3 linked regions of the Homo sapiens genome follow. The protein of the gene in region 3 interacts with the protein of the main gene of each other region in a pairwise test. Each region holds a gene or a part of one and is shown on either strand. Other genes may lie near its edges.

Region 1 (3,648 bases), on a different chromosome or scaffold from region 3:
TAAGCCGACTGTTGGGGCTGATCTGTAGCAAGAACCAGGCGCTGCCCCGCAGGCCGCCCTCGGTGCCCACTGCCAGGGTCCCTGCCTGGCCCAGCACAGGCTTCCTATGGGACAGGGGTGGACATACTGATCCAGAGCAGCCTGTGTTCCCACCACCTCCACCATCCCCACATGCTGCCCAGCCTATACCGTGTCTCCAGGTGGTAGTCCATGACGTCCCATGCATCCCAGTACAAGGGGACATCATCAAATAGCACAAACTGGTTCCCCACGGCGCCCTCAGCAATGGCCTCCCTGGAAGGACATGGGATTGGTGCTGTACAACCAACTGACCTCGCTGTCTCCAGCTGCTCTTGGTGGGGTAGGGTGGAGTGAGTAGACCCAGTGGACAGGGGACTACTGCCCAGCCTGCCCTGCTCCATGTGTGGGTTCCAGCCCAGAGCCACTGGTGGGCTGCTGTGGGCAGTGTTGTGGCAAGGGGAGAGAGGAAATGGCCTGGGGTCTACTTGCCAGGCACTGGGAAAGGGCAATGAGGATTTGGCACCTGCCAGAGGCCACCAGGACCAAGGACGTCAGGCGACCAGTTGGGTCCAGCTTCACTCGGATGATGCCATTGTCCAGAGTCACGGAGCCATCAGTCTTTGTGGGAGGAGGCCTTGAGGCTGAGTCTGTAGGGGCTTCCCACACCAAAAGTCTTCCCACCCCAACCCCAGCCCCGCCTCACCACTTGCTCCAGACAGGGGAGCTCAGGACCCTCAGTTGTAAGAAAGTATCCCAGCACAGTTCCTGCCCCCCAGGGCATGCAGGACTCACCTCTTGCACTACGAACACAGGCTGCTGGGGCAGCAGGGGCTGCAGTGAGGTGGGGGGAGGAACAGGAGCATAGCCCATGCTGGGCACTGTCACCAGGGCTGGGGGTGAGGCCTGGGCATCAGTGCAGCCTTCCTGACCTTTCAGGAAGCTTGCGCAGGTGGGGATGGGTTGGTGGAAGATGTGCTACTACTCTCCAGTCAGGGGCACCCAGATCCCTCGGGGTATCCCAGGCCTGATCTGTCTGGCCTCCATCCTTCCTGCTGCAGTAGCAACCCTTCCCCTCAGCTCGTACCTAGGCTGTGGGCCCCGCCCGGTTTGGGCAGGGCCATCACTTCGATCCGCTTCCAGGGCAGTGTGTTGACGATGAGGAGGCCCTCAGGACCTGGCTCCCCAGCACACAGGGCTGCGGCTGCAGCGCTGAGCAGTGTATTGCCATGGGAACGGATGTCTGAGGAAAGACTGGCTGGTCATAGGTGGGCAACAGGTCTGGAATGTGCCCATGGGTATCCCACAGGGGACACTCTGGGCTCAGCCCTGGGGTTGGAGAGAGCAGGCAGGACTATTGTGAGCCTAACCTTCATAATGGCACATGGCTTCCTCTGCCACCATCTGGATGCAGCTTCCAGTCACCACATCATGGAACTGGTTCAGAAGAAGGAGCCTGCAGGGGCCAAGGGCAGGGATGGGAAGGCTGGGAGGGGCAGGCACAGAGGTAACTGCAGTGAGCAGTCAGGTGGATGGCAGGGACAGAACTGGGCTGACCTCCAGAGGTGCTGCAGCTGGGCTGCTGGGTATAGGAACTGGGCACTGCGGGCCAGGGCCAGGCTACTGAGCAGCTCCACGTCGTGCAGGATCCGCTCACATTCCCGGTTCCCCTTCTTGATCTGAGCCCAGGATGGGAAGATTAGTCTGGAGCCTGCTTAGCTGTCCCAGGACACCTTCCAAAGCCCTCCCTTGCTCAGAATCCCTGAGGACTCACCAAGGGCCTCGTGGAGAAGGCCTCTGGCGGGTGACCTGCCTTAAATGCCTTCCCTCTTCTCCCCGCAGCCCAAACCCTTCTTTCTTCAGGGGTTTCTGCCTCCTTCAAGCTTTCTTGACCAACCCAGGTCTTGAACTTCTCTCCTCCAAACTTCTCTTCCCCTAGATCTGGCCTGGGCTCTGTCCCCTGCTGCCTTCTCTGACCCTCTGCAGATCAAGGGCACACCCTCCCTGCACAGCCCTGCAACCTCCCCCTGACCTGGGCATGGGTGGTGTATGTGCCATTGTGCAGCTCCAAGAAGAGCTCCCCAACCCACGTGCACAGCTGCTCTGAGTCACTCTCCAGTGCTGAGAAGAGCTGTCTTGGAGAAGATAGCTGCACCCTGAGGAGACCACAAGCCTAGGTCTCCCAGCCTTGGAGACCACATGGCTCACCCTTCTTCCACACCAAAGCAAAGGATCCAGCTCCTACAGAGAGGAGCCACTCCAGAAAGCTCCCCGTTCACAGATGGCCAGCCCTGGACGCCCTAGGAGAGCCTCTCTCTCTGATGGGCTGGAGCCCTTACCAGCTTCAGCTTCTCCCCCACCCACCCCCAGGGTGGAAGTTTGGAGGAACCCGTGGTCTAGGATTGGGACAGGACAAGGTCCAGAGGAGGGGTTGGGCCCAATGTCTGAGGGAAGGCAGGGCTCATGGCAAGGGCCCAGGGTGGGGCTAAAGGAGAGCCAAGGCCTGGCCTGACCTGGGCAGCCCATCCGTATTGCTCAGGCGCTTCAGGCGGTCCAGCATGGTCTGGGTGGGGCCACCACCCCCATCCCCAAAGCCAAAGAGGAAGGCACTGTGGTTGGCCCGCCCCTTGTCCCGGTTGTTGGCCACGGTCTTCAGCACCTAGACAGGTGAGGGCAGGCCAGCATGGATCAGCCTGGAACAAGCCAGCCCTCTCCAGCCTGCCCCTACCCCACCACCCTAGGTGACCCCTCACCTCCTCCACGCTGCCCTGCATCCCATAGGAGTCGCCAGGTGGGAAGTGGACCAGTACACGGGAGCCATCCAGGCCCTCCCAGAAAAATGTATGGTGCTACCAGCAGGGAAACAGAAGCAGGGCAGAGAGGCCAGAGTCAGGGCTGAGGCAGAGCCAGGCCTTCCAGACTTGGTCCTGCCCCTGCCTGCTATGTGACCCTGGCAGAGGCAGAGTGAGGGTTTGGTGGTCTGTCTAGGACCCCACAATAAGGGGGAGAGGCAAATGGGCCAGGCGGGACTGAGGCCCACTCTGACCCTGACCCCCCGGGGGCCTGCTTACTGGGAAGGAGTTCACCAAATTCCAGCTCAATTTCTGGGTGAGAAAGCGCCTGATGCCACAGCCGTGCATGATCTGGGGGAGCTGTGCTGAGTAGCCAAAGGTGTCCGGCAGCCAGAACTGTGGAGAAAGAGGATCCTGGAGTGCAGGAACCAGAGCTCCAGGCGGACTCACCCCAGCCTCAGCCCCTCAGCACTCCAAGTCGAGCGCCAGCCCCACTCGCCCACAGCCTGGTGTAGCAGCTCTCAGCCTACCTCAGAGCACATCTTCCCAAACTCCTGCAGAAAGAAGTTCTGGCCCTGCAAAAACTGCCTCACCATGGCCTCTCCACTGGGCAGGTTCCCATCCTGGCAGTGAAGGAAGTGGGAGGCAGCCCAGGTCAGCGCTGGACGGGGAGCAGGCAGGCGCTCAGGCCAACCCAATCCCTGCAGGAGAAGCCAGGGCTGCTCAAACATGGGAGTTACAGCCAGAACTCAGGAAGGGCCCCTGTCCTTCAGGCCTGACTGTCCATCTGCCTGAGGGGGTGCCCAGGACTAGGCCATGCAACTTGTCACAGCGCTGG
Region 2 (3,648 bases), on a different chromosome or scaffold from region 3:
GGCGAGAGATGGCCGTGGGTCCTGTGGCACCCAGCCTGGTCCCCACCCCGAGGAATCCAGAGGGCCCAGGGCAGGGAGGGCGCAGCAGCGGAGATGGGAAAGGCCCACCCACAGCCACGCCCCACTGCCGGGAGGAGCGCTGGGCCGCCCACCCCACAGCCTGCGTACCTGACGGGCCCAGGCTCCCCTTCGATGCAGCTCACCACCTGGAACTTCTCCAGGTCCCAGAAGCGGATTGTCCTGCAAAGGCAGCCAAGCTGTGCTGCGAAGCCTATCCCTCATCCTGGCCTCCACATGTCCCTGGGAAGCCAGCTTTTCTCTAGAAACCTCTCCCCCAGGGCAGGGCCACCAGGAGCAACATCTGGGGCAGAGCTGGCCCTGACTTTGCAAGGGGGAGGCTCGGCCCGATGGCCCTGGCCCCAGGGTTGGCCCCAACAGCCACGAGCCTCCCTGCCCTATGGGGTCCCACTAGATGCCTTGGGTCCCAACCTGCCCATGAAGCCACAGACCTGGGACACTGGGGCCAGGGAACCAGAGCCAGGGGAGATGGACCAGGGTCCAGTCCTGGCTCGGCTGAAATCCAATTCAGTCCACACAGGATCATCAGACGTATGACACCCCAGACAGCGACAGACCGGCAGTAGAGACACGCACAGAGGACAAGGCGGTGAAGGACAGCAGTCACAAGCAACTCGCCTCGCTCCTCCTCCTCACCTGTCAGAGCTGCCGGAGGCCAGGAGGTACTCGTTGGGGTGAAACTCGACCACGTTGACAGGCCCCGTGTGACCAGGGAACTCAGACATCATCTTGCCGGCAGTGAGATCCCAGAGCTGGAGGCAGGGCAGGGAGGAGGTCAGGGTGACCAGGCATCTTGGCTGCCCACCCTCCCTCTAATCCAGGCCAAGCTCTTTATCCACAAGCTACCTTCCACTCGGGATAGGCTTGGGACATGTGAGCCCGATCAGGAGGGAGGTGAGGACTCAGCCTGCTGTGATCAGCAGACCCCAGCCCCCAGCCCCTGGGCCCAGGTCAGGCCGGGAGCTACCTTCACGGTGTGGTCATCTGCGGCCGACGCCAACCACTTCCCATCGGGGCTGAACCGGAGACACCGCACGGCCTGGCTGTGCCCCTGAGGGAGGACACGGCATGAGCTCACCCTGGGATCCTGGGCCCAACAGACCTCTCCCTGCCTCCTCACTCCTATGGGACCCCTTCCATCTAACAACACTGGTTACCCGCCTGGTTCTGCTTGGAGCAGTTTGATGAACGTGGCTCTAGGGGATTCATGCAGAGCCAGGGGATCCAGGTGGGCCGCCCATGGCGCTCCTGCTCAGCTCCAGGTCTATGTTTTATGTTATCACCCATGTGGGACAGCCGTCCCCTCCACCCCCTGCTGGGGTCTGGGCACCACACCACACTCAATGCCCGCAAGGTGCTCATGGAGTCACCGACAGAGCGCATCCTTACCCTGTATCGGAAGACACAGCCTTTCCTCCTGATGTCCCAGAGCTGTGGGGGAGAGAGAAGCAGAGGGGCAGAGTCAGGAGAGGTCAGAGCCACGACTGGAGGAAGGTGTGCAGTCGTGAGCAGACGGTGGGGCCCAGCCTTCTCTAGGTCGTTACTCCCCACGGAGACAAGGACAGAAACTGCTCACTAAAGCTGGCATTCTGAGCAGAAGCATCTGGCAGATAGATGCCTGCCACCCGCTTTCCCTAGGATGGTGTGGATGTGGCTGCAGAAAGGGAAGAGGTCCCCTCAGCAGGCATCCAGCACTGAGGGCCGGGCCGGGCTGGTCCTGCCACAGGCCCAGCAGGAGACACGGGGCACGGACCGGCCTCTCACCTTGATGTTTGTGTCCTGGGAACCAGAGGCTACAAACTCGCCGTACGGGTGGAAATCCAGGCTGCAGATGTTGGCTTTGTGTCCCATGAGTGTGCGAAGAACTAACAAGAAGGAAAGCAGAGACAGTGGCTAAGAGGCAAATGAGAAGGCTGGCAGAGGAAGGGCTGCTGTGGGCATTTGTGTGTGCGCTTTTGGATTAGCTGCACAGAAAAATAGAACAATAACACACATTTTTAAAACAGTAGGAAACAATCAAGGGTCCCACCACCCTAACAACGAATTTTCTTTTCTTCCTTTTTTTTGAAAAGGAGTCTTGCTCTGTCGCCCAGGCTGGAATGCAATGGCGTGATCTCGGCTCACTGCAACCTCTGCCTCCCGGGTTCAAGCAATTCTCCTGCCTCAGCCTCCCAGGTAGCTGGGATTACAAGCATGTGCCACCACACCCGGCTAATTTTTTTATATTTTTGGTAGAGATAGGTTTTCACCACGTTGGCTGGGCTGGCCTCCTGACCTCAAGTGATCCACCCGCCTTGGCCTCCCAAAGCGCTGGTATTACAGGTGTGAGCCACTGCGTCCTGCCAACAACTAATTTTCCCACATTTCTCTTGAGAGGTGACAGCCCTATGTTACCTCAAGTCTGCAGAAATTGTACCACACTCTCCCCACAGACTGTGCTCCAGCGGAAGCAGAACCAGGGAACCACCACACTCAGTTCAGGCCCCATGGGTGTGGAGCTTATGGTTTGCAGGGCACTGAACCCCACCCAAGACAGTGCAAGGAGAGAGACAGACCAGGAGAGGTTCAAGCTGGGAGAGAAGCTGCTTGGTTGGAAAGAGAAATCCAGGAAGGCTTTATGGAGGAGGTGGTATTTGAGTAGATGTCAGTGGGTGGAGGATGAGGGATGCTGTTAGGTAGATGGAGGTGATGGGCAAAGGCCCTAAGAAGGGCAAGTGGAGGGCATGGCTGGGGTGGCCCTGGTGCACACACCAGTCTTCTTGGGTGACCTCTGTCCAAGGGATCTTGAGGGTGGCTGTGAGGACACACTGAGGAGCAGTGAGAACTGAGAGGACACAGGGAGGACACGCGAGGACCAAAGAACTCCTGGGGTGGGGCCTGATCGCCTCCCACTGCCCTAGGAACCACATCTCCTATCCTTTCCTTGAAGGTTTTGCAGGCATCTCCATGGCCAGGAGCGGCCCAGCCTGGAGGCAAACCTTGTGTGTTTCAGGGTGTCCTCCAGTACCACTCAGATTTGTCTCATGTTTCCTGCTTTTGGAAAGATTCATAATTCACTATCTGAATGAAACTGACCATCCCAAGTGCCAGGGTCAGGAAATGTGGGAGTCCAGCCATTCTTAGTTTTGAGCCAAGGTGCAATAGGTCACCTTGTGAGGTAGTGAGCTCTCTGTCAGAGGAGGTATTCAAGATTCCATATATAACACTTTACTGCAGAGTCAAGATCCAAGCACTGGGTGAATTAAATGAACTCTACTGTATGATCTTCTCTACCCCCAAAGTCAGGATGTGGGCTCTGGCATCAGACAATACTGGGATCAGCCTTGGCTCCGCTCCTCACTGGTGGTGTGACCCTGGCCAATCACTTACTGTCTTTGGGCCTCATGTTGGGTCACAGAATGGAGTAAACATACATAAAGTGCTTAGCACGGGCTCTGCACATGGTAAGTGCTCAATAAATGCCAGTCTTAATTAGTCCCATTCACATTTCTTCCTGCACAAGGCCTGCCTTCTGCTCTTGGCTGTCCCGCAAGCTGGGCCTTCTCTCCTCCTCCCCAGGCCTCAGTGCCC
Region 3 (3,648 bases):
AGCTGGGATTACAGGTGTGTGCCACCACATCCAACTAATTTCTGTTTTTTTAGTAGAGATGGGGTTTCGCCACGTTGGCCAGGCTGGTCTCAAACTCCTGACCTCAGGTAATCCACCCATTTTGCCTCCCAAAGTGCTGGGATTACAGGTGTGAGCCACTGCACCTGGCCTTAAATAATTGTTTTTAATAACATGTTTTAAGTAATTTTTTTAAAAAGCCCAGAAAATAATTCATTTTCTGGGCTTTTATGTTTAGAAATGTTTTCCACATTTATTAACATAAAACACAATGTACCTCTTCAACAGTAAAAATAAGGAACTGATTATTGAAGATCTCATTAAATGACAGAAGCTAATAGAAAAAAAGAAACCAAATCAATTTCTGAAATGCCTATAGAGAGGAAGAGAAATAAAACGAGGCAATCCCAAATCATAAGAAGGAAAATGAGAAACAAAGAATATAATTTTTGCCTTTACAGTTAAAACAATGAAAGGACACCTAAAAAAATAGACACCTTTAACTTTTTCTTTTCCTTGTAGTTCCTGGCTTCTTCTGCTGCGACACCTGCTGCTTCATTGAGGTACTTGTTACCAACTTTGCTTTCAAACCATTTTAGGTCCACAAAAACTTCACTGAAGTGCTCCCGATCAAACTGTACAGAAATATTTAAATTTATTTTTAAATAATTTAAGTATATCTAGAAGAATACAAATCAAACTTAAAACAGTGACTACTACTGGGGTATAGGAAATTGGAGAATGTTACTCTTTTATATATATGGGAGACCTCATGTGTTACTCTAAAAATACAAATAGAAAGCAAATAAAAATAAAATTAATTTAGGTAAAAGTGTTTATATTGAATAAGCAATTGGAATAGAATTATAAAACCCCTTTCTTCTGGTATTACATAATTGGTGACTGATCATTTACAGCTACTCTGCGACAGGAAACCAAAAATTTCTAGTTACTTACATCTGATAGTTTCACAAGGTATTTCTCAAATCGAGGTAAGTTGAGGTGCCCACTTTCATTAATATAACCTAAAAGAAACAAAAATTTAAATCTGTACTAAAAGCTGACATTTTTTCTAAACAATTCTACAAAACTCTTTCTACAAAATGTTGAATGTTCATGTTCTACAGTACTAATCAAGAAAAAACAGTGTTGGACTATATCCAAACTGGCCCTAGTTTCTGTGAATTTTATGCTACTATAATATGCAACATGTAAGCACCAAAGCCAAATATAAGAAATTCCAGGTTCCACATAATAATCCAACATTTGGTAACAATTAATTAAATTAAATATGGTCTATAATCTATCTAGATCATTTAATATGATATGTTAACTTAAGGACTGATGTTCTGCTACCCTGTGGTCTGTTTTATTTGGCATCACTATGTTTGTCAATTTTCTGTTTTCATTGAAAAATCACTGCTTCATAATAAACACTGTGATGCATATCCATTCGAAAAAAATTGAATTTCTATGCTTAAATATGAAAAAAGTAAAACCAATAAAGTATGCTGGCTTTCTTAAGGAATTAAAGGCAAAGATTAGACCGGGTGTGGTGGCTCATGCCTGTAATCCCAGCACTTTGGGAAGCCAGATCACTTGAGGCCGAAGTTTGAGACCAGCCTGGTCAATATGGTAAAACCCCATCTCCACTAAAAATATAGAACTTAGCTGGGCATGGTGACACATGCCTGTAATCCCAGCTACTCAGGAGGCAGAGGCATGGGCATAGCTTGAATCCAGAAGGCAAACGTTGCACTGTCGCCACTGCACTCCAGCCTGGGCAACAGAGCAAGACCCCGTCTCAAAAAATAAATAAATAATAAAAAAAAGGCAAAGATTAGTTAGATATCAATAATTGAGGTTCGTTAACTCTGTTCACTTTCTTTCCTTGTGAATCACTGAAAATGACAACCTCAGAGGTTAGCACCTTAGACCAAAATAAATCCTCAATGTTTTTCTGCTTTAGCGTGCATGCAATAATCTACTAAACTAAGTCACATTTTTAGGGTAAGGTGGCACTAAATTAAAGTATCCTCGAGAGATTATTAAATTCTTCTTACCCCCAAGTTCTGGCAGGATGGTAACATATGTTCCATAAAGAAGAGGCAGTGCATCATGATTAATATGTAAATGAGGTAGATGAGGGATAAAATCATTACCAACAAGAAACCCCATCAAAATCCAATCATCTATTATCCTTTCAATATCATATTTAAATGTGATCTTTTCCTACAGTAAAATAGAGAACAAAGTCAAATCCAGTGAAAATTTCTGCAATGGAAATCCTTGGTCCATGGCTTTATTAATACTTACTTTTAATACTGAAAACTCATAGTCAATATACTCTCTCATTAAAGACAAGTGTAGAAGGTGAAATGTAGTTTCTTCTGGAGCACATACCCTGGAATTAGTCAGATGATCAAGATACAGTGAATTTTATTTTTAAGGTCCCAGCTTAAAAATGTAACAAAGCTTAAATCAAAAGTATCATCAGAAGATAGTAAGGTCTTGTAATTAAGGCATACAATTTATATGAAGGTTGCAGGGTAACAAAGATAAAAATACAATTGCAATAATAGATAATACATGTTAAAGTTCAAAACAATTGGTTTACATTATGTGTTCTGTGGAAGGATTCTCAGAATTAAGAAGTCCTAAATAACATATAGTAGAAGTAAGAAACTACTGAGATCTGGCCCATTTAAGGCTGGTCTTTTCAACAAATAATGCAAGGAAGATTGGATATCCACATGCAAAAGAATGAAGTTGGGCCCTTACCTTACACTACACACTAAAATTAACTCAAAATGAATCAAAGATCTAACCATAAAAGTTAAAACTTGAAAACTCCTAAAAAAAGAAGAATAAATGAGTTGGATTATAACAAAATTAAAAACGTTTGTGCATCAAAGGACACTATCAACATAGTGAAAAGGCAACCTACGGAATGAGATAAAGTATTTACAAACATGTATCTGTTAAAGAATTACTATCCAGGCGTAATTTCTTTCTTCCAACATATATGCTATATAATTTACCGTTGTGTTTTTTTGCCACCAAATCGAACTTCTTCTCTTAAGAGAGAAAAATGTGCCTCATGACTTGTTAATCCAAGCATAATCTGTTGAAAAATGATTAAGAAATGTTTTTATTCTCCCATTTTTAATAATATTAGGTTCACAAAAGCAATTAAAAAACAATTCTATACAAGGAAGAATAAGAAACAATTAGCACATTAAATATACAAATAACAAAATATGATCTATTTGTAGGTAATGAATGAGATAAAGTGTACTTTTCTAAGAAAAATATGTTCACCTTAGCTCACATGCTTTTCATAACCATTACCCTATCCCCTGTCCCCTCTCCTCTTCCTATCCCTCCAAATCCCAAACATCTTCTCTTGGTTTTCACATATTTCTACTTGCCGTGGGGGAACTGGTTAGAAATTAGAGGCAGCAGCTTTTCTATGACCAAAGAATGCAGGACTCTTTTGGAGACCAGGATAGCCCCAGTATATGAAAACTCAGGAAAAAAAAAAATGGAAAAGAGCACTTCCAGTTAATTTTCTCACATAGTATCTTTTTTTTTTGAGACAGAGTCTCGCTCTGTTGCCCAGGCTGGAGC

What was found.
Region 1: the proteins of XRN1 (region 3) and MAN2C1 interact in a two-hybrid assay, tested with the Homo sapiens proteins (one large-scale study listed by BioGRID).
Region 2: the proteins of XRN1 (region 3) and KATNB1 interact in a two-hybrid assay, tested with the Homo sapiens proteins (one large-scale study listed by BioGRID).

What each region holds. Positions count from the first base shown.
Region 1 is NC_000015.10:75,358,515-75,362,162, forward strand, and holds part of MAN2C1 (alpha-mannosidase 2C1), read right to left. Parts: intron 3,434-3,648; coding exon 3,341-3,433; intron 3,207-3,340; coding exon 3,090-3,206; intron 2,868-3,089; coding exon 2,772-2,867; intron 2,678-2,771; coding exon 2,532-2,677; intron 2,175-2,531; coding exon 2,051-2,174; intron 1,698-2,050; coding exon 1,576-1,697; intron 1,475-1,575; coding exon 1,389-1,474; intron 1,262-1,388; coding exon 1,106-1,261; intron 925-1,105; coding exon of another isoform or gene 912-924; coding exon 814-911; intron 678-813; coding exon of another isoform or gene 640-677; coding exon 545-639; intron 295-544; coding exon 190-294; intron 105-189; coding exon 1-104. UniProt on the Homo sapiens protein: Cleaves alpha 1,2-, alpha 1,3-, and alpha 1,6-linked mannose residues on cytoplasmic free oligosaccharides generated by N-glycoprotein degradation pathways.
Region 2 is NC_000016.10:57,749,122-57,752,769, reverse strand, and holds part of KATNB1 (katanin p80 WD40 repeat-containing subunit B1), read right to left. Parts: intron 1,944-3,648; coding exon 1,843-1,943; intron 1,510-1,842; coding exon 1,468-1,509; intron 1,130-1,467; coding exon 1,046-1,129; intron 831-1,045; coding exon 715-830; intron 241-714; coding exon 169-240; intron 1-168.
Region 3 is NC_000003.12:142,420,501-142,424,148, forward strand, and holds part of XRN1 (5'-3' exoribonuclease 1), read right to left. Parts: intron 3,143-3,648; coding exon 3,060-3,142; intron 2,423-3,059; coding exon 2,335-2,422; intron 2,251-2,334; coding exon 2,082-2,250; intron 1,044-2,081; coding exon 976-1,043; intron 654-975; coding exon 516-653; intron 1-515. UniProt on the Homo sapiens protein: Major 5'-3' exoribonuclease involved in mRNA decay. Required for the 5'-3'-processing of the G4 tetraplex-containing DNA and RNA substrates. The kinetic of hydrolysis is faster for G4 RNA tetraplex than for G4 DNA tetraplex and monomeric RNA tetraplex.